Linked DNA regions of Homo sapiens. The protein of the gene in region 1 interacts with the protein of each later gene in a biochemical or structural test. Each region holds a gene or a part of one and is shown in the gene's direction. Other genes may lie near its edges.

Region 1 (11,264 bases):
TATCTATTTTTTATTTTTCTTGTCTGTACTTTTGGTATCGTATCTTAAAAAACATTGTCTAATCCAGAGTCAAAATCTATGCATATTTTTTCTAAGAGTTTTATCATTTTGGCTTTTCCAATTAGGTCTTTGATACATTTTGTGTTGCTTTTTGTATCCAATTTCATTCTTTTGTATGTGGAAATCCAGTTGTTCCAGTACCATTTGTTGAAAAGGTTGTTCTCTCTCCAACTGGTCACCCAGGTCTTGGCACCCTTGTTGAAAATCAGTTGACCATAAATGTAAGGGTTAATGTTCTATTGATCTGTAGGTCTGTCCTTGTGCCAATACCACATAGTAGTTTTGTAGTAAGTTTTGAAATCAGGAAGCACGAGTTATCCATCTTCGTTGTTCCTTTTTTTTTTTAATTCAAATATATATATTTTTTCAATCTTTTTAATTCTACATATTTTTGTAAGCATCCCCCCAATTCTTGTTTCATAGTAAATCAGACTGTAGATGAAGCATTTCAGACCTTTTGTCAATCATGTCAAGTGTGAGGGGAAGTCTTTTGTAAGTCAGCCAAGTATTTCAAAATGAAAAGCTTTTCCAAAAGTAAAGGCAGAAGACCCCGCTTTGAAGGCGCTGGTCGGCACAGAAGGGCTTGCAAAGGTATGTAGGGAAGTCCACCGGTTACAGGTGTAAGGTGAGTTTAACCTACGGCGACCAGCTGGCCAGGAGCGCCCCAAGGCAGACGAGGACGTGGGGCTTGGGCGCACGGCCGCCTGCAGCCATCTCGCCCCAGATCCTGGCTCAGGAAACGCAGGCTCGGGCTGGGGTGGATGTGTGCGCCCCAGGGCCCTGGCACCCGGGGGACCGAGGGCTCCTCCCAGGTCCTTGGAACAGCAGAGTGGCTCCCAGGAAGGATGCTCAGCTGCAGGTGGGGGTCCCTGCTCCCAAGCACCCTGGCCAGGGAGGAATGGCGCACCCCACCCCGTTCGCCCCTGTTGTTCCTTTTCAAGATTGTTTTGGCTGTTGATCTTTTTCAATTCCTTATGAATTTAGGATTAGCCTGTCAAATTCCACGAAAAGGCAGCTGGGATTTTTTTTTTTTTTTTTTTGAGATGGAGTCTCAATCTGTCACCCAGGCTGGAGTACAGTGGTGCAATCTTGAGTCTCGGCTCACTGCAACCTCCGCCTCCCGGGTTCAAGCGATTCTTCTGCCTCAGCCTCCTGAGTAGCTGGGACTACAGGTGCGTGCCACCACGCCTGGCTAATTTTAGTAGGGACGGGGTTTCACCGTCTTAGCCAGGATGGTCTCGATCTCCTGACCTCGTGATCCACCCACCTCGGCCTCCCAAAGTGTTGGGATTACAGGCGTGAGCCACCGCGCCTGGCCTTTTTTTTTTTTTTTTAGTAGAGACAGAGTTTCTGCACGTTGGCCAGGCTGGTCTTGAACTCCCGACCTCAGGTGATCCACCTGCCTCGGCCTCCCCAAGTGCTGGGATTATAGGCATGAGCCACCACGCCCGGCCTGAAATTGTTTTATTTCATTTTCAGTTTTGTTTTGTTTTTTTTTTTTTAATAGAGATGAGGTCTCACTATGTTGCATAGGCTGGTCTTAAACTCCTGAGCTCAAGCAATCCTCCTTCCTCAGCCTCCCACAGTGCTGGGTTTATAGGCATGAGTTACAATGCCTAGCCCATTTTTAGTATTTTATAGCTATAGTGGATAGAAATATAATTGATTTTTATATTGACTTGTGTCCTGCAAGCTTGCTGAACTAAATTTATTAGCTCTAATAGGTTTTTTTTTGTGTGTGTGTGGATTCCTTAGGATTTTCTATATATAAGATTGTATCTTCTACAGATACAGTTTTACTTCTTCCTTTCCAATTTGGAAGCCTTTTGTTTTATTTTCTTGCTTAATTGCCCTGGTTCAAACCTCTAGTACCATGTTGAATAGAAATGATGGGACTGGGCATCCTTGTTAGGTTTTGTTATTAAGGAGAAAGTGTTCGGTCTTTCACCTTTAAATATAATATTAGCTGTGGGGTTTTCATCAGGTTAAGGAAATTTTTTTTTTTTTTTTTTTTTTTTTTAGATAGTGTCTCACTTGGTCACCCAGGCTGGAGTGCAGTGGCGCAATCTTAGCTCTCTACAGCGTCGATCTTCCTCCTGGGCTCAAGCAATTCTCCTGCTTCATCCTCCTGAGTACCTAGGACTACAGGCAAGTGCCACCATGCTTGGCTAATTTTTGTATTTTTTGTAAAGATGATGTTTTGCCCTGTTGCCCAGGCTGGTCTCAAACTCCTGAGCTCAAGCAATCCGCCCACCTCAGCCTCCCAAAGTGCTGAGATTACAGGCATGTGCCACTGAGCCTGGCTGAGGAAGTTTCTTTTTGTTCTTAAATGGCTTTCTTTTTTTTTTTTTTTTTTCGTAAAAGGATGTTGGATTTTGTCAAATGCAATTTCTGCACCTTTTGAAATGATTGTTTTAGTTCTTATTGTATATCATGTTGATTGATTTTTGTATGTTGAACCAGCCTTGCATTCTTAGAATAAATCCCACTTGGTCAAGGTGTATAATCTTTTTGTGTATGTTAAATGATATTTAATGTATAATAAATTTAAACCTTTCTTTGCCCCAACAGAAAATGATCCACAGTCTATTTCTCATAAACTGTTCCGGTGACATATTTCTAGAGAAGCACTGGAAGAGCGTTGTGAGCCAGTCTGTCTGTGATTATTTCTTTGAAGCTCAAGAGAAAGCTGCTGATGTTGAAAATGTACCACCTGTCATTTCAACACCTCACCACTACCTCATCAGTATCTACCGGGATAAGCTCTTCTTTGTATCTGTCATACAGACCGAAGTGCCACCTCTCTTTGTAATTGAGTTCCTACATCGAGTTGCTGACACTTTTCAGGTTGGTTATCTATCATACCTTTCTAAGTTAAATGACCCAAGTTAGCTGAAGGTGAGACATGATTATATTATTTAATTACCCAGGTTTTGATGTTTACTGTCTGTCTCTCTCTGTTTAAGCGTAAATTCATAAGCCCTTTTCTGTGTGGTATACAGTTACACACATGGCTGCTCTATTCACTATTTTTTATATGTATTACAGATTACAGTTGGCTCTCCATATACATGGGTTCTGCATCCATAAAGTCACCCAACCTTACATGGCAAATATTTGAACAAAAAAATCGAACTGAACATGTACAAACTTCTTCTCATTATTACTTGAACAATACAGTATAACAAATAGTTACATAGCATTTACACTGTGTTAGATATTACAAGTAATCTAGAGGTGATTTAAAGTATATAGGAGGATGTGTATAAGTTATGTGCAAATACTATGCCATTTTATGTCAGCGACTTGAGAATTGTGAACTTTGGTATCTACAGGGGATCCTGGAACTAATTCCCACAAATACCAAGGGATGACTGTATATCATCAGGAAACAATAATGCCCTCCGCATACAGTTCTCTCAATGGTCTCAAGATTTTCATTGGTTATGAACTCTTCTATATTTACATTTTATTATTTTGTCTTGCGGAATATACCAAATAATTTAAGCTTATCTATATGTATTTTGGGATAATCAGGGTGAATGAAGTTTATAGCTCAAATTCCAATTTAATGTTTCAATACTTTCTGGTATAATATGTAATAGGAATTAAATTCAACCTAGAAATATCAAGAAAATATTGAGGAATAATATTAGGACTATAGAGGGGTTTTTTTTGTTTGCTTGTTTTGTTTTGTTTTGTTTTGTTTTGTTTGAGACGGAGTCTCACTCTGTTCCCTAGGCTGGAGTGCAGTAGCATGATCTTGGCTCACCGCAACCTCCGCCTCCCGGGTTCAAGCAATCCTCCCGCCTCAGCCTCCCAAGTAGCTGGGACCACAGGTGTGCACCATCACACTCAGCTAATTTTTGTATTTTTAGTAGAGACAGGGTTTCACCATGTTGGCCAGGCTGGTCTTGAATTCCTGACCTCAAGTGATGCATCCGCCTCAGCCTCCCAAATTGCTGGGATTACAGGCATGGGCCACCATGCCCGGACTATAGAGGGTTTTTTCCCCCGCTCTGTTTTATATATGTTCAGCAGCTTAAGCAATGAATTATGCTACTCTAAGTTTATTCTTCAGAACAAAAAGTATTTAGCAGGCCTTTCTTTTTGCCTTCCATTGTGTGATATTTTGTGTGTATTTTGTCAGGACTACTTTGGTGAGTGTTCAGAGGCTGCAATTAAGGATAATGTGGTCATAGTATATGAACTCTTAGAAGAAATGTTAGACAATGGATTTCCACTGGCTACCGAATCTAACATTTTGAAAGAATTGATTAAACCACCAACAATTCTACGCTCTGTTGTCAACTCTATTACAGGTAAGATGAAAACATACTGTGCTAGTAACTGAGCAATTAAAACTTTGTAAACAACTCATTATTGCTCATGATCTGACATATTATTAAGGTAGTACAATTTGGCCATAATTAAAGTTACTGGTAAAGTTAAAATGGATGTACTATATATTTATTTTCATGGAAAGAGGCTAGACCTTAAGTGATAAAGAACTTTTGGTTATTACTCTTTTTTTTTTTCTAAAACACCACAACAATATTATTACCATTATTTAACACTAAATACTAAGACTGAATAAATTGTTCCAGTTATTCCTAAAGAAGCCAGTATATGAGCCCACTTAGAAGAGAATTTAGTCCATTTATAGACTGGCATTTTAATATTTAAAATAGCATTACATAACTGGTATGCTGCTACTCCACAATTACTAGAGAATAGAAAATTTAAGACGCTTAACCACACAGTACTACAATCTCCTCCAAGTCTTTGTTTTTATGCATTCAGAAGATGTATTAAGAAAAAATAGGAAATAGTTTACTTATGAGATCTCATGCATTGTGGGCCTGTACTTGTGTTGTAAGCTTCCAGCTGGGTTTAATTCTTGAGTGTAGCTAGAAATTAGGCACATCCAGATACCAATATTCTTTCGAAAGCATTAAAGTCTTTTAGACAAAGATTCCTATGAAATGTTATATGCCACTCCAACTCCACTGTCAACCATTGTAAACCCCTGTCCAGTGCCTTGACCTAAAAATGAGGTGAGAGAGGCCTATAAGAAAAAGATCATTCAGCAGCTCTTTATTCATCCTTTGTGTAAGGACGAATGTTAGGAGAAATTCAAAGAAAGATAAGATGGTGTGTCTGTACTCCTAAAACTTATACTCTGAATGGGACATTGGAAAAAAAATTAAGTAAATAACTGTATAAGACTTTAAAAAGCAATTCCATACTTCACAGATAAAGTAATAGCATTGGAAAATAAATACACATGATGTAACGTTAAATTGAAAAGTCAGCACAAAACTGAAAAAAATTATTCTTATATATAAATATTCACTCCGACAAAAAAGTATTTACAATGATTATACCCAGCTAAATACAGATTATATTTATTTTTGCTTTATACTTTCTAATTTTCCAAAATAAACATGTATTTTATAGTCAGAGAAAAGTTACTAAAATATATAATGCAAAACATAACAGATTCATTAGATAGTGTATTACAAAGTTCAAGAGAATGGTTCCATTAATGAAGTAATCCCTCCTGAACTGTGGTGGGTGGCCACCTTGGAAAATCAGTAGAATTCAGGAAGTGAGGAAGGAATAAGAGCATTCTCCATGGTGGAACTGTATGAGAAAAAAACACACATGAAAGAGAAAAACCTAAAGTTTTATTAATCCCTTTAGCAGAAGCAGAACTGTTTTTCACTTGAGAAGTTAGAGATCAAATTAAAAAGTAGAGAAAGTCCTTCAAAGCTAGGATAAATATTTAGCTTTTATCATAAAGCCAGTGAGCAAACATTGAACGTTTTTGAGCAGGAAGATAACATGATTATAGGTTGCAGGTAGGAACACCAATCATAAGTAGACTGCAAAATTGTAGATACAGTATGATTGCGACTATATTTTAAAGTGCAATTAAAAACCAAAATTATCAAAATAGAAAAAAATGCAACCTTCTGGTGGTGGAAATATTCAAAGAAATATACCAAAATGTTAATATTATATTAAAATGTTAATACCATAATATTAACAAAAATGTTAATGGTAGATATATTTTGTTAGTAAGAAGACAGGTGTTTTTCTTTAAACCACTTCTCTGAACTCTACCTTTTTGTTGTTGTTAAGTATGTAGTACTTTCGAATGGGAAATATAAATTAACCAAAATATTAAGTAAGTCACAGCTCAAAGATATGTGTTTTGGACAACCAGACTTATTTTTAGGCATGTGTCAGTTTACCAGGAAATGAGCTGGATACTGAATACTAGCTATATTGCAGCCGTATGGGTATGCTGACCTTAAAATAGGAAAAGGCCAGATTCCATTTACTCCACTGAGGCGTGCTTGGCAGCATCTCATGTAAAATAAAGTTGAATACTGAAGGGCCTAGTTATAACTCTGTATTCTCACTGGAGACATTTTATTGGCAGAAGGTTTTGAAACAACCAACCTCTTTTTTCATCAGTGGCAGAGATTCTGTTGTTGAGCCACTGGAATTAGATTAGATTACTGTTAACACACAGGAGGCAAAAGATAAGTAAATAAATTTAACCTGGTTTGGCAGGTAGACAGAGGGCCACATGGCCTATATTTCTTTTCTAGAAATTTGATCATGTTGGTATGGATATGTCTGACAATTCTAGTGACCATCCACAACTTCATTAAGAAAAATCCAAACATTGAAGAAGCAGCTTTTTTTTTCCTAGTAATAAATTTTCTCATGACTGTTTTATACATCAGCTTTGCCTTCTCCTTTTTTGGTTTCTAGGCAGTAGTAATGTTGGGGACACACTCCCCACCGGGCAGCTGTCCAACATACCATGGCGTCGGGCAGGGGTAAAGTACACAAACAATGAAGCCTATTTTGATGTTGTTGAAGAAATAGACGCAATTATAGATAAATCAGGTAATTGTGTGCATGTCATCTTATTTGGGGAAAAACAATTCATCTGACACAGATGAATAGAAAACTGAAGTCCTGGCCGGGCGCGGTGGCTCACGCCTGTAATCCCAGCCCTTTGGGAGGCCAAGGCAGGCGGAACATGAGGTCAGAGTTCGAGACCAGCCTGGCCAACATGGTGAAACTCTGTCTCTACTAAAGATACAAAAAATTAGCCGGGCATGGTGGCGCGCACCTGTAATCCCAGCTACTCGGGAGGCTGAGGCAGGAAAATTGCTTGAACCCAGGAGGCAGAGGTTGCAATGAGACAAGATCATGCCATTGCACTCCAGCCTGGCTCTGTCTCAACAAAAAAAAAAAAAAGAAGAAGAAAGGAAAAGAAAATTGAAGTCCTTTGGCAGTATGGTTTCGGTGGAAAGGCATTCATTATCTGATGATTTTTAAATCTGTTTGTTTATTTATTTATTTATTTGAGACGGGGTCTCACACTGTTGTCCAGGCTGGAGTGCAATCACATGATCTTGGCTCACTGGAACCTTCACCTCCTGGATTCAAGCGATCCTGCTGCTTCAGCTTCCCAAGTAGCTGGGATTACAGGCATGAGCCACCACACCTGGCTAAATTTTTTTTTTTTTTTTGAGACGCAGTTTCACTCTTATTGCCCAGGGTGGAGTGCAATGGTGCAATCTCAGCTCACCGCAACCTCCGCCTCCCGGGTTCAAGCAGTTCTTCTGCCTCAGCCTCCCGAGTACCTGGGATTACAGGCATGCACCAGCATGCCCAGCTAATTTTGTGTTTTTGGTGGAGATGGGATTTCTCCACGTTGGTCAGGCTGGTCTCGAACTCCTGAACTTAGGTGATCTGCCCGTTTCGGCCTCCCAAAGTGTTAGGATTACAGGCGTGAGCCACCGCTCCCGGCCCTGGCTAATTTTTTGTATTTTTAGTAGAGACGGGGTTTCACAATGTTGGCCAGGCTGGTCTCAAGCTCCTAACCTCAAGTGATCCACCTGCCTTGGCCTCCCAAAGGGCTGGGATTACAGGCGTGAGCCACTGCACCTGGCCCATAAATCTGTTTATTTTGCCCATAGGTTACATATAATTTTCATAACCACTAGTTGAGGTCTGCCAAACATGTAAATCAGAACTCATAATGCCTTACTTTAAGCCAATTATTACCCTATGTACCTCTACCTCTTGCTATTTATTCCTTCTAACATTTATTGAAAATCTGCTATATACCATGCTTTTGCTACTACATTATGTGCAGTACTTCTGGTAAAAGCCCCTATCTGATTATTTTTCACTTTCTTTTTTTTTTTTAAGTACAGGGTCTTGCTCTTTTGCCTAGGCTGGAGTGCATTGGCGCAGTCCCTGCTTACTGTAGCCTTGACCTCCAGCTCATGTGATCCTCCTACCTCAAACTCCTGAGTAGCCTATAGTCCCAGCCAATCAGGAGGTACACGCCACACGCCACCATGCCTGGCTAACTTTTATTTGTTTTTTTTGTACAGACAGGGTCTCACCATGTTGCCCAGGCTGGTCTTGAACTCCTGGGCTCAATCAGTTTACCTACCTCAGCCTCCCAAAGTGCTGGGATTACAGGCATCAGCCACCACACCCAATCTGATTATCTTTTTAACCAGACAAAACAATAGTACTCTATAAGAATCGTAAAATTTTATTATTAAAAATAGCAGCCGGGCATGGTGGATCACGCCTGTAATTCCAGCACTTTGGGAGGCCGAGGCAGGCAGATCACTTGAGGTCAGGAGTTTGAGACCAGCCTGGCCAACATGGTAAAACCCCGTCTCTACTATAAATACAAAAATTAGCTGGGCGTGGTGGCAGGCGCCTGTAAACCCAGCTACTTGGGAGGCTGAGGCAGGAGAATTGCTTGACCCTGGGAGGCAGAGGTTGCAGTGAGCCAAGATTGCACCACTGCACTCCAGCCTGGGTGACAGAGTGAGACTCCATCTCTAAAAAAACAAAAAAAGAAAAAAGAAAAAAAATCTAGTCCTTCCTTTACATTTATTTTACACATAAGGAAAGCCCAGAAGGGTTAAGTGAACTGTTCCAGGTCACACAACTTGTTAATATGTAATGATGGCTTATTGTGAATTATAGTCAATATCTTCTCTTCCATGAGTCCCCTTTTCATTATAACATTCCATCTTATAGAATAATAGATTTTTGCCAGGCACGGTGGCTCACACCTGTAATCCCAGCACTTTGGGAGGCTTAGGCAGGAAGATCACTTGAGCCCAGGAGTTCAAGACCAGCCTAGGCAACATAGCAAGACCCCATATCTATCAAAAATTTAAAAGATTAGCTAGGCATGGCTTCCTTAATCCTACCTATTCAGAAGGCTGAGGCAGGAGGATTGCTTGAGCCCAGGAGTTCAATGCTGTGGTGAACTATGTTCACACCACTGTACTCCAGCCTGGATGGCAGAGGGAGACCCTGTCTCTTAAAAAAAAAGAGATATCTTTCTATTATGGATCCTATTTCTTAAAAGTTAACTTAGTCCATTTCATAATACACTTGCCACATTTTAAAATTCTATTGAAGCCGGGCGCGGTGGCTCACACCTGTAATCCCAGCACTTTAGGAGGCTGAGGCGGGTGGATCACGAGGTTAGGAGATCCAGACCATCCTGGCTAACACAGTGAAACCCCATCTCTACTAAAAATACAAAAAATTAGCTGGGTGTGGTGGCAGGCGCCTGTAGTCCCAGCTACTCGAGAGACTGAGGCAGGAGAATGGCGTGAACCCGGGAGACAGAGCTTGCAGTGAGCCCAGATAGCGCCACTGCACTCCATCCAGCCTGGGTGACAGAGCAAGACTCCGTCTCAAAAAAAAAATTAAAAAAAAATAAAATTCTATTGAAAATGGTTTTGGTTGGTTTGTTTTATTTTGTTTTTGAGACAGAGTCTCACATTGTCGCCCAGGCTGTAGTGCAGTGTTGTGGTTTCAGCTCACTGCAACCTCCGCCTTCTACGTTCAAGCGATTCTCCTGCCTCAGCCTCCCAAGTAGCTGGGACTACACGCACACACCACCACGCCTGGCTAATTTTTTGTATTTTTAGTAGAAACGGGGTTTTGCCATGTTGCCCAGGCTGGTCCCAAACTCCTGAGCTCAGATAATCTACCCACGTCAGCCTCCCTAAGTGCTAGGATTACAGGCATGAGCCACTGCGTCCTGCCAAATGTTTTAAACTCATATCCAGTCATCTTACAGGGTTGGCTCCATAAAGGAAACAGTTTAATTTTCCTTAGAATTAGCATATTCTGGCTGGGTATGGTAGCTCACACCTGTAATCCCAGCACTTTGGGAAGCTAAGGTAGGCGGATTGCTTGAGCCCAGAAGTTTGAGACCAGCCTGGGCAACATAACAAGACCCTGTCTCTACAAAAAAAATACAAAAATTAGCCAGGCGTGGAGGTGCATGCCTGTAGTACCAGCTGCTTGGGAGGCTGAGGTGGGAGGATTGCTTGAGCCCAGGAGGTTGAGGCTGGCTATCATAGCACCACTACGCTCCAGCCTGGGTGACAGAGCAAGACCCTGTCTCAAAAAAAAAAAAATTATATTCTACAGTGGCATACCTGTAGTCTCAGTTACTCTGGGGACCAGCTGGGACTAGCTAGTCAGACTTTATCTCTTAAAAATAAAAGAATTATTATTATATTCCAGCCAGAGTTAAGTATGGACCTTGTCCCCTGACCTGTTAATAGAGATGTAAAGCTTCAGTTAATCTGACACCCAGAGGGTATCTCTATTGTTCTAGATGTAGTGATTGTTGGGCTAGGTGTCATGGCACGCACCTATATTCCCAGCTATTTGGGAGGCTAGGGCAGGAGGATTACTTGAGCCCAGGAGTGAGGCTGCAGTGAGCTATGATCATACAACTGCACTCCAACCTTGGCAACAGAGCAAGACTCTGTCTCTAAAAACAATAAATAAAAATAAAAAGATACAGTGATAGGTCTAGTGAAGACTCATATTCCATTGATGTTATCTTCCTTTTTTTTTTCTTTCTTCAGGATCTACAGTCTTTGCAGAAATTCAGGGGGTCATTGATGCTTGCATTAAACTATCTGGAATGCCTGATCTCTCCCTTTCTTTCATGGTAAGTTTTATTCTCCTGTTTTATAGCCCCTTGAATGCCTAATACATGTGAAGTACTAAATGAAATGATAAATATTGAGATAAGTTTGCATCTTAGATTGCAAAGGATTATCTCAGAAATATTCCTAGCAGAGTTTCCTAAGACAGTCGCTTACATG
Region 2 (11,264 bases), on another chromosome or scaffold:
AAGCCTGTGCATGGAAGCAGAAGCTACGGCACAGGGTGTGCAGAGAGCCACCCCGCCACTCGGGCCCGAGCTCCACCGCTGCTCCCAGTGGTCCCAGAAACCCCAGTTACTTTCTGGGTCTCCATCCTGGCCTTAACAGACTGGCTCAAGGTGCACTGGCCCCAGGTGTCAGTGCCGTTGCCCCCTGGGGAACTCCCTCCGTGCAGGGCTCCTCACATGGTCTAGCCAGCCTCCAAGTGGTCTAGCCATGAAATGAGGTCCCAGGTCACCCCCTTCATCATCCTTGACCAGTGCTTTCCAAAAAAGCAGCTTTTTCAGAATTGAACAGGAAACCACCTTTCAAACTAGTCTTTGCTGATGCAAGGTTCGTGTGATTTTGTGTACAGTTCTTCTATAGATTTTTTGAGATAGCAATCTGTTTTGTAAAATGTTTATCTTTTAAAAAGAAGCTCAAATAGGCAAAGCCTCATTTGTCCTATGATGGTAACTTTTTTTTTTTTTTTTTTTTTTTTTTTTTTGAGACGGAGTCTTGCTCTGTTGCCCAGGCTGGAGTGCAGTGGTGTGATCTCGGCTCACTGCAACCTCCGCCTCCCCAGTTCAAGCGATTCTCCTGCCTCAGCCTCCCGAGTAGTTGGGATTGCAGGCATGTGCCACCATGCCCTGCTAATTTTTGTATTTTTAACTAAAGGAGGGGTTTTGCCATGTTGGCCAGGCTGGTCTTGAATGCCTGACCTCAGGTGATCCGCCCACCTCAGCCTCCCAGTGCTGGGATTACAGGTGTGAGCCACTGCGCCCAGCTGAGGGTAACTATTTTTAATGTGGCTGATGAATGTAACTATCCTGTCCCATGTCTCTGTCCCCAGCTGCAGAGCCCTCGTCGAGTGCTTGCCTTTTAGCTGCCCAGTGTCAAGAGTAAGCTAGCAAGAAATAATCTTGAATGACATTAATACAGGACTGCATTTTGCTCTTTTTTTTGGTTTTGTTTTGTTTGAGATGGAGTCTTGCTCTGTCGCCCAGGCTGGAGTACAGTAGCACCATCTCGGCTCACTGCAACCTCCGCCTCCCGGGTTCAAGCAGTTCTCTTGCCTCAGCCTCCCAAGTAGCTGGGATTACAGGTGCCTGCCACCACACCCAGCTAATTTCTGTATTTTTAGTGGAGACAGGGTTGCACCATGTTGGCCGGGTTGGCCTCAAACTCCTGACCTCAGGTGATCCACCTGTCTTGGCCTCCCAAAGTGCTGGAAGTATAGGCATAAGCCACTGTGCCTGGCCACCTTTTGCTCTTGAAAAACATTCTGATCTGCTTGTTGCTCTGGTTGCTGAATCTTTTTTTTTTTTTTAAAGGCCAGTGCAGTGGCTCACGCCTGTAATCCCAGCACTTTGGGAGGCCGAGGCGGGCAGATCACGAGGTCAGGAGTTTGAGACCATCCTGGCCAACATGGTGAAACCCCGTCTCTACTGAAAATACAAAAATTAGCAGGGCATGGTGGCGGGCACCTGTAGTCCCAGCTACTTGGGAGGCTGAGGCAGGAGAATCGCTTGAACCCAGGAGGCGGAGGTTGCAGTGAGCCAAGATCGTGCCACTGCACTCCAGCCTGGCAACAGAGCAAGACCCTGTCTCAAAAAAAAAAAAAAAAAAAAAAAAAAGGACCGTGTAATCCTCTGTCCAGCATCTGGTTGGTTTGTTCATTTTAGGAGTTGCGGGAGCTTCAGGACGAGAAGGCAGAGCTGCAGAAGATCTGCGAGGAGCAGGAACAAGCCCTCCAGGAAATGGGCCTGCACCTCAGCCAGTAAGAACCCCACTCCCCTTGTCTGCCACTGCAGGCACACCAGGCTACCCACCACATCCCTCAGGCCCCAAACCTACCTCCTTTTGGCGAACGGAGGGTGGGCCATTTAGGAGCTCAGTCCGCCGTTCACGGATGAGCTCTCAGGAAGCCCGGCCTCAGAGGGGCCCAGCACTGATCTCTGCTACCCACATGGGGTGTCAGCGAGCTCTTAGTTAATTCAGGAAGCACGTTCATTCCTAGTGACCAGGACACTCCTATTCCTTAGCTTCATATCCAGGGCCTGAGGGAACAGATGGGCAATGAGAGGATCGCTTGGTCAGCCTACAGTCAGGCCAGAGGGAGCAGGGCTGGTTTGGGAACGGAAGCCTGGCACAGTAGAGGTGCACTCACCCGCCTTGCACAGCACAGCCCCCTTCCTTTCGGGGAACTGGCCACTGCATCCGCCAGAGTCTGTCTGTCTCTGCTGCAGGTGCTGATGGGGTGCAGACCCTGGTAGTTCTGCTCCCCTCTGACTTGACAGCTCTCCTCCTTGGTGTCCCAGTCTAGATAGGTTGCTGTGGACGCCTGGGCCTTGGGGTGGATCACACTGCGGACTGTGGAACTTGCCCATTTGTGTGATGATTCTGCATTTTCAACATAGTGGGTAGCTTTTCTCCTCGAGTCAGGGCGCATGGTTGCAAGTAACAGAAATCCAACTCAAAGTGGCTTAAGCAAAAGAAGCCATCAGGAATCGGTCTCTGTCTCCTACCTCTGCTATCCTGTCTGCCTCACAGGTGGGTCTGGACCCTGCAGGGGCAAAACAGCACTCAGCAAGGCCATCTATCAGAGGAACAAACTCCCTCTTCTTTGTGCATAGCTGCCAGGATCACCCGAGATTGACCCTGCTCCCGAGTACCCATGCCTGACATAAGCACCATGACCAAGGAGATGGGGCTCACGACCTCAGCACAGCCTGGTCTGCACCAGAAATTTGTAGAGTCTAGTACTATTAAGAAAATAGGCCGGGTGCGGTGGCTCACGCCTGTAATCTCAGCACTTTGGGAGACTGAGGTGAGCAGATCACCTGAGGTCAGGAGTTCGAGACCAGCCTGGCCAACATAGTGAAGCCCCGTCTCTACTAAAAATACAAAAATTAGCCAGGCATGGTGGGCACCTGTAATCCCAGCTACTCGGGAGGCTGAGACAGCAGCATCGCTTGAACCCGGGAGGCAGAGGTTGCAGTAAGCCGAGATTGCACCACTGCACTCCAGCCTGGGCAACAAAAGTGAGAATCCATCTCAAAAAAAAAAAACAAATAGCTGGTCAGGGAATCTGATGTCTCTGGTGGGAATGCGGTCTGCCCACTCCCAGATGCAGGTGCTGGCCACTCGCCGTCTCTCCTGTGCCTCTTACCTTTCTAGACTAGCCCATGGCCGCTGCTTCCTCCCCTCCCACCCTCCGCCCTGCCTGCCACCCACTCAGCTGAGTGCCCTGTGCTGCTCCCGTCTGGCCTGTCAACTTGCCGTGCTCTGGCCCGTTCCTTCCCAACCCCCAGGGAGCTCCTTGAGGGACGCAAGGCCCAGTGTCTGTCCCCATGCTCAGAGCATAGGCCAGCTGTGAGGGCATCCCGAGAGCACTCACCAGAAGCAGACGTGGAACAGAGCTGGCGTGGAGCTGGCTTCTGGGGTTTGCAGCCAGTGTTTTCCTCTTTACATTGGATGGACAGCAAGGCAGTGTCACAGGTCCCCTCCTAGTGGACCATAGACCTCGAAACTGTGGTTGGTCTCTGATCTTTAAAATGTATCATTGTGGCCGGGTGTGGTGGCTCATGCCTGTAATCCCAGCCCTTTGGGAGGCTGAGGTGGGTGGATCACCTGAGGTCAGGAGTTCAAGACCAGCCTGACCAACGTGGAGAAACCCCATCTCTACTAAAAATATAAAATTAGCCGGGCATGGTGGAGCGCGCCTGTAATCCCAGCTACTCAGGAGGCTGAGGCAGGAGAATCGCTTGAACCTGGGAGGCGGAGGTTGCGGTGAGCCGAGATCGCGCCATTGCACTCCAGCCTGGGCAATAAGAGTGAAACTCTGTCTCAAAAACAAACAAACAAATGTATTGTTGCACTTTGTGGCCGCCTGGCACTACCGGCTAACCTAGCTTCCAAATCCCAGTGTGAGCTGCCTGGCCACCATTCCCTCCCAGTGAGTGCTGTGGGTGTCACAGCATCAGGTGTTTGCAAACCCAGACAGGACTACCTGAGGAGTTGCTTTTGTGCTCTCTCCCCTCTTCCCTTCTTCCTCTTGCAAGCCTATACCGGATGACAGAGATGGCAAAGCCTCTTCGCAGGCCCTACATTAGCTACAGGAACAGTTTCCAGTTTCATTGGCTTGGGAACATCTGGATTCTTCCTAAATTGTGTTTCCCAGAGTTCTTGTATGTTCAGTTTGCCTTGTTGACCTGGCTTCCCAAGGTCTGTCCATCTGCGCAGCCTCTTCTCATCCTGTCAATCTGCTGGCCTATTTCCTGTTTCTGCAGCCGGACCAGGAAGGGAAGGAGCTGCCTCCCGATCTTTAGTAAAAGCCACAGGGATTTTTCTAAATGCCCTGATGCTGTTTTCTAATCCCTCCCTTCGAAGTCTAGCCTGTGTTTCCCAGAGACCTGCCATTTTGTCACTGAGATGAGTCTAATCTGATGATAGTTCAGACTGATCTCAGCTTTTAAGAAAGACCCAGGCCAGGCTGGGCGTGGGGGCTCAGGCCTCTAATCCCAGCACTTTGGGAGGCCGAGGCAGGTGGATCACTTGAGGTCAGGAGTTCAAGACCAGCCAGGCCAATATGGTGAAACCCCATCTCTAGTAAAAGTACAAGAAAATAAGCTGGGTGTGGTGTCGGGCGCCTGTCATCCCAGCTACTTGGGAAGCTGAGGCAGGAGAATTGCTTGAGCCCAGGAAGCAGAGGTTGCAGTGAGCCGAGATCACACCACCGCACTCCAGCCTGGCCAATGCAGCAAGACTCCATCTCAAAAAAAAAAAAGAAAAAAAGAAAAAGGCTCAGGCCTATAATCCTAGCACTTTGGGAGGCTGAGGCAGGTGGGTCAATTGAGGTCAGGAGTTCAAGACCAGCCTGGGCAACATGGCAAAACCCCACCTCTAGAAAAAATACAAAAATTAGCCAGGCGTGATGGCATGCACCTGTAGTCGCAGCTACTTGGGAGACTAAAGTGAGAGGATCACTTGAGCCCAGGAGGTCAAGGTTGCAGTGAGCCATGATTGCACCACTGCATTCCAGCCTGGGCAATATAGCAAGATCCTGTCTCAAAAAAAAAAAAAAAAGGATCAGACTGTTTCCCTCAATTGCACAAACTGCTTCATTTTATTTGGTTTAGTTCTGCCAATTTAGACCATGTTCAGTCCTGTCTCTTGTGTAAACAAAGGAATTGTTCTGACACTGAACAAGAATGGAGCAAGAACAAATGGCTATGCCATCTGAGCCTTCCCCCTTCCAGACAGCAGGCAGCAGAATGGAGGCCGGGGAGAAGCCTGCAGACTCAGGTTCCTGCTGGGGAGAGCGGTAGAGACTAGTGCAGAACAGGGCCAGGTCTTGGACTTCTGGCCTCAGGCCATCCTCTCGCCTCAGCCTCCCTCAAAGTCTTTTTGAGCCCCTGCAGGCTAAGCAGTGTGTTCTCGTGCCAGATGCAGTCCCAGGCTCAGCCTCAGCCCTCAGCAGACGGGAGCCAGTGTGATGAGGCAACTCTGGGATTGTACAGAGGCGGAAGGCATTTTAACAACTCACGTTCTGGGTCTCCTCACAAGTCCGGTATCCTCACAAAGCTAGTCCTGAGAGCCAGCTGTGTTAGGGATTCAGAGCCTCACTCTCTCTCACTGCTATGAAATGGCCTTTTTTTTTTCCTTAGGTCCAAGCTGAAGATGGAAGATATAAAAGAAGTGAACCAGGCACTGAAGGTACTGCCTTGCTAAGAACCACTTCTTTGCTGTCAGCTTGTGCTGACTGCCCGTGTGCTCGTACGTTTAAGTATCCCAACAGTCAGGTGAGAGCGTGTGGTTGAGGCAGTGGTGATGACGTATTGACAGAGAAGCCAAACGCTGCTCAGAAACGTGTCCCTCGGCTGAGGGCGATGCTGACAGGTGGCCGAAGCTGAGCCTAGGTCTTCCGACTCCAGTTCCTCCACCATCAGCTGTGCTTTCAAAATAGGCCTGATGGGCATTCCCTAAGGGGGAAGCAGGTGGCGGAGAGGAGGGACCCGCGGATATCTTTAAACAGTGGAAAACAGGCCCTTCTGTTGAAGTGAGGGGCCAGAGGCCAGCCAGCCCCACTGCAGTGCCCTGTGCCATTGCTAGGGACCACTCAAGCCAAGCCCTGAGTTGGGCCAGGTTTCCGCACCCTGGTGGGGAGGGCAGAATGACACATTCCACCGAAAAGCAGGAGTTTGCAGGTGGCCCGGTGTGGGTGCGGGTGCCAGGCTGAGCTGCAGGGCGGAGAGTGTGGGAGAGGAGGCAGACATTCGGGGGCACGGCAGCCTGGCCTTCAAGACAGCCTTGCCTGCAGGAGCACCCCGCTTCGGCCTCAGCTGTGCCGTGGCAGCAATGCAAAAGCAGTCCCTTTGCACACTGTTCCACGTGGTGCAGAGCAGGGACCCTGATGTCTCTGGGCATCTAACTTCCAAGTGCCAGGTCAGGGGCAGCAACTAACAGCAGCCGGGACTTCTAGGTAATATCAGTTTCACAGCATCAGAGGATAGAAATCATAAAACAGGACTCTAGAGCCGCCAGAGCTCTTTGATGTCAGGATGAATGTCCTGGGCACACACTGGCAGCCCCAAGGGTATATGGCTCTAGCTCAGTCTGTGAGGATCTATTTGTCAGCAAGAAAATCTTGTCCAGCAGATGTTAACAGGCCAGAAAAGTACCTCATGCCTTTGACTTCTCTGGAACACCCCAGTCCCTAAGCCCAAATAAATCACAGGTGCTGCTTCGCCCTGAGAAAGCCCTCTGAGGGGCCACCTTTCAAAGCCTCAGCCGCCTCCCCTGTGGAATGGAGTCCATGTGCTCCCCAGGGCTGGTCAAGAATCAGGGCTTTGGCCCGCATGGAGAAGGGCTTCCTCAGGCCTGTGGGACGCAGTGCCCGCTGTCCATCACCTTCTGTCTCTCCACAAGGATCAGCGTCAACAAGTGTCTTAGTCTCACTCAGATTTGGCCCTTCTTCCGCGCCTGCCAGTTCAGCTAGCACTTCGGCCAGTGTCTCAGGCAGGGTCTAGGGTTGCAGGCACCAGAAGCTCGCTCTGCTTACTTCAGCCAAAGGGAACTGATTGAAAGTGGGAGTGTGCCTGAGTGAGCAGATGCTGGAGACCGCCTGGAGGCCCCAGGGCAGCCTGCAGAGGCCAAGAGGTGGAGCACGGAGCTAGGATGCAGAAATCCCGGCTGCGGCCAGACGGGGAAAGAGCCCCTTGATGACAGTCCTGTGAGGCCCCATCTGATGGAGAAACAGTGCCTCACTAGGAAACAGGTGCTATGAGGGACAATGGATGTGGCCAGAACGCAGCTACCCACTCATCAGGGGCTTAGACAGAAAGTGGATTCTAGAATGTCCTTTCCTCTTCAGGGCCACGCCTGGCTGAAAGATGACGAAGCGACACACTGTAGGCAGTGTGAGAAGGAGTTCTCCATTTCCCGGAGAAAGGTACGTGGGGGCTCCACCCACCCTCCCAGTGCCCTGAGTCGTTGCCCGCTGGATTCCCCTTTCTCTGGTTCCAGAAGCCCATATCAGAGCAGGCTCACTGCCCGGTGACTGTGCTGACTGTGGCAGATGGGCAGCCCCGCCTCTCCTGTTTGCCTGTGCAGATGGCTTTCCATCCTGGCACCCTCTTTCTGGGAGGCCTTGGCCAGTCATAGGCCCCTGGTCTCCAGCACATCCTTTCAGTGATTGACAATGATTTTTGGGGAGATGGGGCTCCTTGTGTGCAGAGCTGCTCTAGGGGAGTGTCATTGAAAATTCTCTGTATGCGGCAGGAACAAAATCTGGCCCAACTTAGGCAAAAACAATCTATGGGGAACCTACAGGGCAGCAGGTCACCAAAAATCACTAGTGATCTAGGCAGCGTGCTTGCCCCTGCCCTTTAGGTTCTGGAAACAAGGTCCTAGGCTCACCCTTGGGTCTAGGGTTGACTGGGCCTTATTAACAGTCTCACCAAGACCAGCTGGGTAGGGGAAGAGTTGGGTATAAGCAAAACTGGGAGCTAAAGGAAACACTGCCAGCGCCACCCACCTTTCTGCCACAGCCATGTTCTGTCTGTTCCCATCAACAGCCTAGCTCTGTGGAAGAGAGGAAGCCACAGCTACCCCACCCGCTCCCCAACCCGAGTTTCAGGCAGTGCCTTGCAGTAAGCTCAGAGCTAGAAACCACGTCCTGAGGCTGCCTTTGAGATCACATGTGTCTACAAGGCCTGGCTGTCCCCATCTGTGGAGTCAGAAGCAGAGGCTGCACAGGTGCTCATCTTGATGTCTTATCAGGCACCCAGGGAACCTGTTTAGAAAGGGATCTACTCCACCCCCTTGGAATGCAGCAAAGAGAACGAACCAGACTCTTCCTGTAACATGGACTAGCAGCTCACTGGCTTAGTGATGAAGTACAGCAAAAGTAAACTTTTTGTCTTAAAAACACCCTTAGGCCGGGCACGGTGGCTCATGACTGTAATCCTAGCACTTTGGGAGGCTGAGGTGGGTGGATCACGAGGTCAGAAGTTCAAGACCAGTCTGGCCAAGATGGTGAAACCCCATCATCTCTACTAAAAAAATACAAAAACTAACCGGGCACGGTGGCAGGCACTTGTAATCCCAGCTACTTGGGAGGCTGAGGCAGGAGAATCGCTTGAACCCAGGTGGCAGAGGTTGCAGTGAGCCGAGATTGCGCCACTGCACCCCAGCCTGGGCGACAGAGACTCAAAAAAAAAAAAAAAAGCCGGGCGCGGTGTTTCACGCCTGTAATCCCAACACTTTGGGAGGCCAAGGCGGAGGCAGATCACGAGGTCAGGAGATCGAGACCATCCTGGCTAACATGGTGAAACCCCGTCTCTACTAAAAATACAAAAAATTAGCCAGGTATAGTGGCGGGCACCTGTAGACCCAGCTACTGCCGGAGAATGGCGTGAACCTGGGAGGCAGAGCTTGCAGTGAGCTGAGATCGCGCCACTGCACTGCAGCCCGGGCGACTGAGCAAGACTCTATCTCAAAAAAAAAAAAAAAAAAAGACCCTTGTTTGCACACAGCCCCTCACCACCCCACAGAAACATAAGAACCCATTCCCAGCAAATGATGCGCTTCTGGGTCAGGAAGCAGGGAGGGTGTGCGGATGGCTTTTCCCCGGGTGTCCTGTGACCGCCTTCTTCCCGTCCTGTAGCACCACTGCCGGAACTGTGGCCACATCTTCTGCAACACCTGCTCCAGCAACGAGCTGGCCCTGCCCTCCTACCCCAAGCCGGTGCGAGTGTGCGACAGCTGCCACACCCTGCTCCTGCAGCGCTGCTCCTCCACGGCCTCCTGAACGTCCGTCCTCAGGAGCACAGCCTCACGGACAGTGCCAAACCCTGTGGGTCTCCAGGGGCTTGGGAAATGTGTTCTTTCCCAAGAGTATCAAAGGAAAGAATCAAATTTCTTGCCCGGTCACTGGCACTCCAGAAGACAGCGTGCCGGAACCGGCAGCTCTCACCTTTCTGTGACTTGTTCGGAATTAACTCCTCTGGATGGAAACTTCCATCTTACTTGGTTACATCACGGCTCTGGTTCAGATACAACTTCATGATTTTGCTACTATCATTTTTCACTTTTCAAAGAATTTAACCTATTTTACAGCAGTTCAGTTCTGCTAGTGAGTAGTTTTCCTCTCCTACCTTCCTTCTAAAAACCTGATTCATGCACAGCGTTTGACACACATGGAGTCTGCCAGTGTGCCTTCTCTGCTTCAGACAAGAGATCTGCCATTTCATGCCCTTGTGACTACCTATCATTGGCCCTGCAATAAAATCATTTATTTTTCACTCTGGTGCGTGCAGAAGCTTGTGTCAACTTCCAAAGAGCCCACCGCACCGGAGGAGGCCTCAGAGCGCCCCTCGTGCCCGAGCCCCGTGTGAGTGAGAGGCTGCTGGTGCTGCCCCAGAGCCTGCAGGGCAGCCTGGTGAGCCAAGGGCAGTTTGCAGGGTCAGCCTGCCGTCAACAGGCAGAGGAGGTGACCCCAAGCCTGTCACCAAAGTGCAAGAGTCGTTCACGTACATAGTTGGGAGTTTGATAGGTTACAGATGGAGACACCTGTGAAAAGGCACGTGCCAGGCAGCCATTTTTCACATTTCAAATGCAGCGCTACGACTGGCTTCCAGTCCCTCCCTCGGAGGCCCCCACCCCCAAAGATCCAATGGCCCGGGGCTCCCTTCCGGTAGAGACAACAGCATTATCAAGTCCAGACAGCCAACAGTCAAGTCTTCCAGGCCTCATCCTTCTCCACCTTCTATACACATACCTTGTCCGCGACCCTACCCTCCCTTCCCACGGGCTTCCTACCCTCGCCAAATCCAGGCCTCAGGATTCCACTCCTCCTTTGGGCTCTTCCTCCGAAGCAGGCTCCCCCACGACCTGGTCAGCCCTGGTAGATGCTTGCATGGCACCCTCAACTGAATTCCTCCTCTGCCGCTCCCTCCCCTCAAACCGCTCTGAAGATGGAAAAGGTGGGAGCTTGGGCAAGACTCAAGGATTCCCCCTCCATCCTATACCGCTTAGGACTGTGCGGCCAGACTTCAAGACGAGGTCCGCCCTGCTCCAAAGCCATGTCCTAGCAGGGTTCCAACCCTATTAGGCAAGCACATTGGCAGCCCTCCCCTTTCCTCACCCCTCACCGTAACAGCTGCCGTCTCATACAGGGCCAAACTTTCAGAAAAAACTGCCTATCACTCACTACCCCTAACTGGCATATATGACATCTGTGCCTTTTCAATACACCCAGTTTGGACCCCTAACTTGCTGGGCAGCCTTAGGCAAGTCAGTTCACTTGAGTCTTAGCTCTCATCTGCACACACAAAAGCAGAATAATCTATCCCTCCCCTACTTCAAGTCTGTTCTGACAGCTCAGTATAAAAACATGCAGGAGGTTCCCACCTCTGTGCCTGACACTTGGGTATAAACACAAGTGTTTAAGTGAAATTTTCAAAGTTGGCAATATTTGGTCAAGATAACTTCCCTACTCAGAAACTGAAATATATTCCAAGCCCTAACTCTGGAATCTCCAGTCCCTGGTCTGCTACCATACCACCTTTACCCAGGCCTGAGAAATGAAAGATAGATATTTTAAGGCAGCACTTCCCAAGTCAACTGAGGTAGGGGTGAGTGGTCAGGATTTTGTTTAAAATGCAGATTCCAACTGACAAGGTCAGGAGGTTAAGTTACTGCAAACAAGCTATGGAGCATAAGATTCCAAAGAACCATAATGCTTCTAGAC

What was found.
Region 2: the proteins of AP3M1 (region 1) and RUFY1 form a complex in vitro, tested with the Homo sapiens proteins (one study listed by BioGRID).

The regions. Positions count from the first base shown.
Region 1 is NC_000010.11:74,129,750-74,141,013, reverse strand, and holds part of AP3M1 (AP-3 complex subunit mu-1), read left to right. Parts: intron 1-2,082; exon of another isoform or gene 2,083-2,208; intron 2,209-2,631; 5' UTR 2,632-2,634; coding exon 2,635-2,907; intron 2,908-4,210; coding exon 4,211-4,382; intron 4,383-6,849; coding exon 6,850-6,987; intron 6,988-11,021; coding exon 11,022-11,107; intron 11,108-11,264. UniProt on the Homo sapiens protein: Part of the AP-3 complex, an adaptor-related complex which is not clathrin-associated. The complex is associated with the Golgi region as well as more peripheral structures.
Region 2 is NC_000005.10:179,600,197-179,611,460, forward strand, and holds the end of RUFY1 (RUN and FYVE domain-containing protein 1), read left to right. Parts: intron 1-1,695; coding exon 1,696-1,790; intron 1,791-1,867; exon of another isoform or gene 1,868-2,070; intron 2,071-2,180; exon of another isoform or gene 2,181-2,576; intron 2,577-3,410; exon of another isoform or gene 3,411-3,545; intron 3,546-5,679; coding exon 5,680-5,728; intron 5,729-7,385; coding exon 7,386-7,463; intron 7,464-8,088; exon of another isoform or gene 8,089-8,269; intron 8,270-8,293; exon of another isoform or gene 8,294-8,420; intron 8,421-9,179; coding exon 9,180-9,323; 3' UTR 9,324-9,816; downstream 9,817-11,264. UniProt on the Homo sapiens protein: Activating adapter involved in cargo sorting from early/recycling endosomes. Regulates retrieval of proteins from endosomes to the trans-Golgi network through interaction with the dynein-dynactin complex.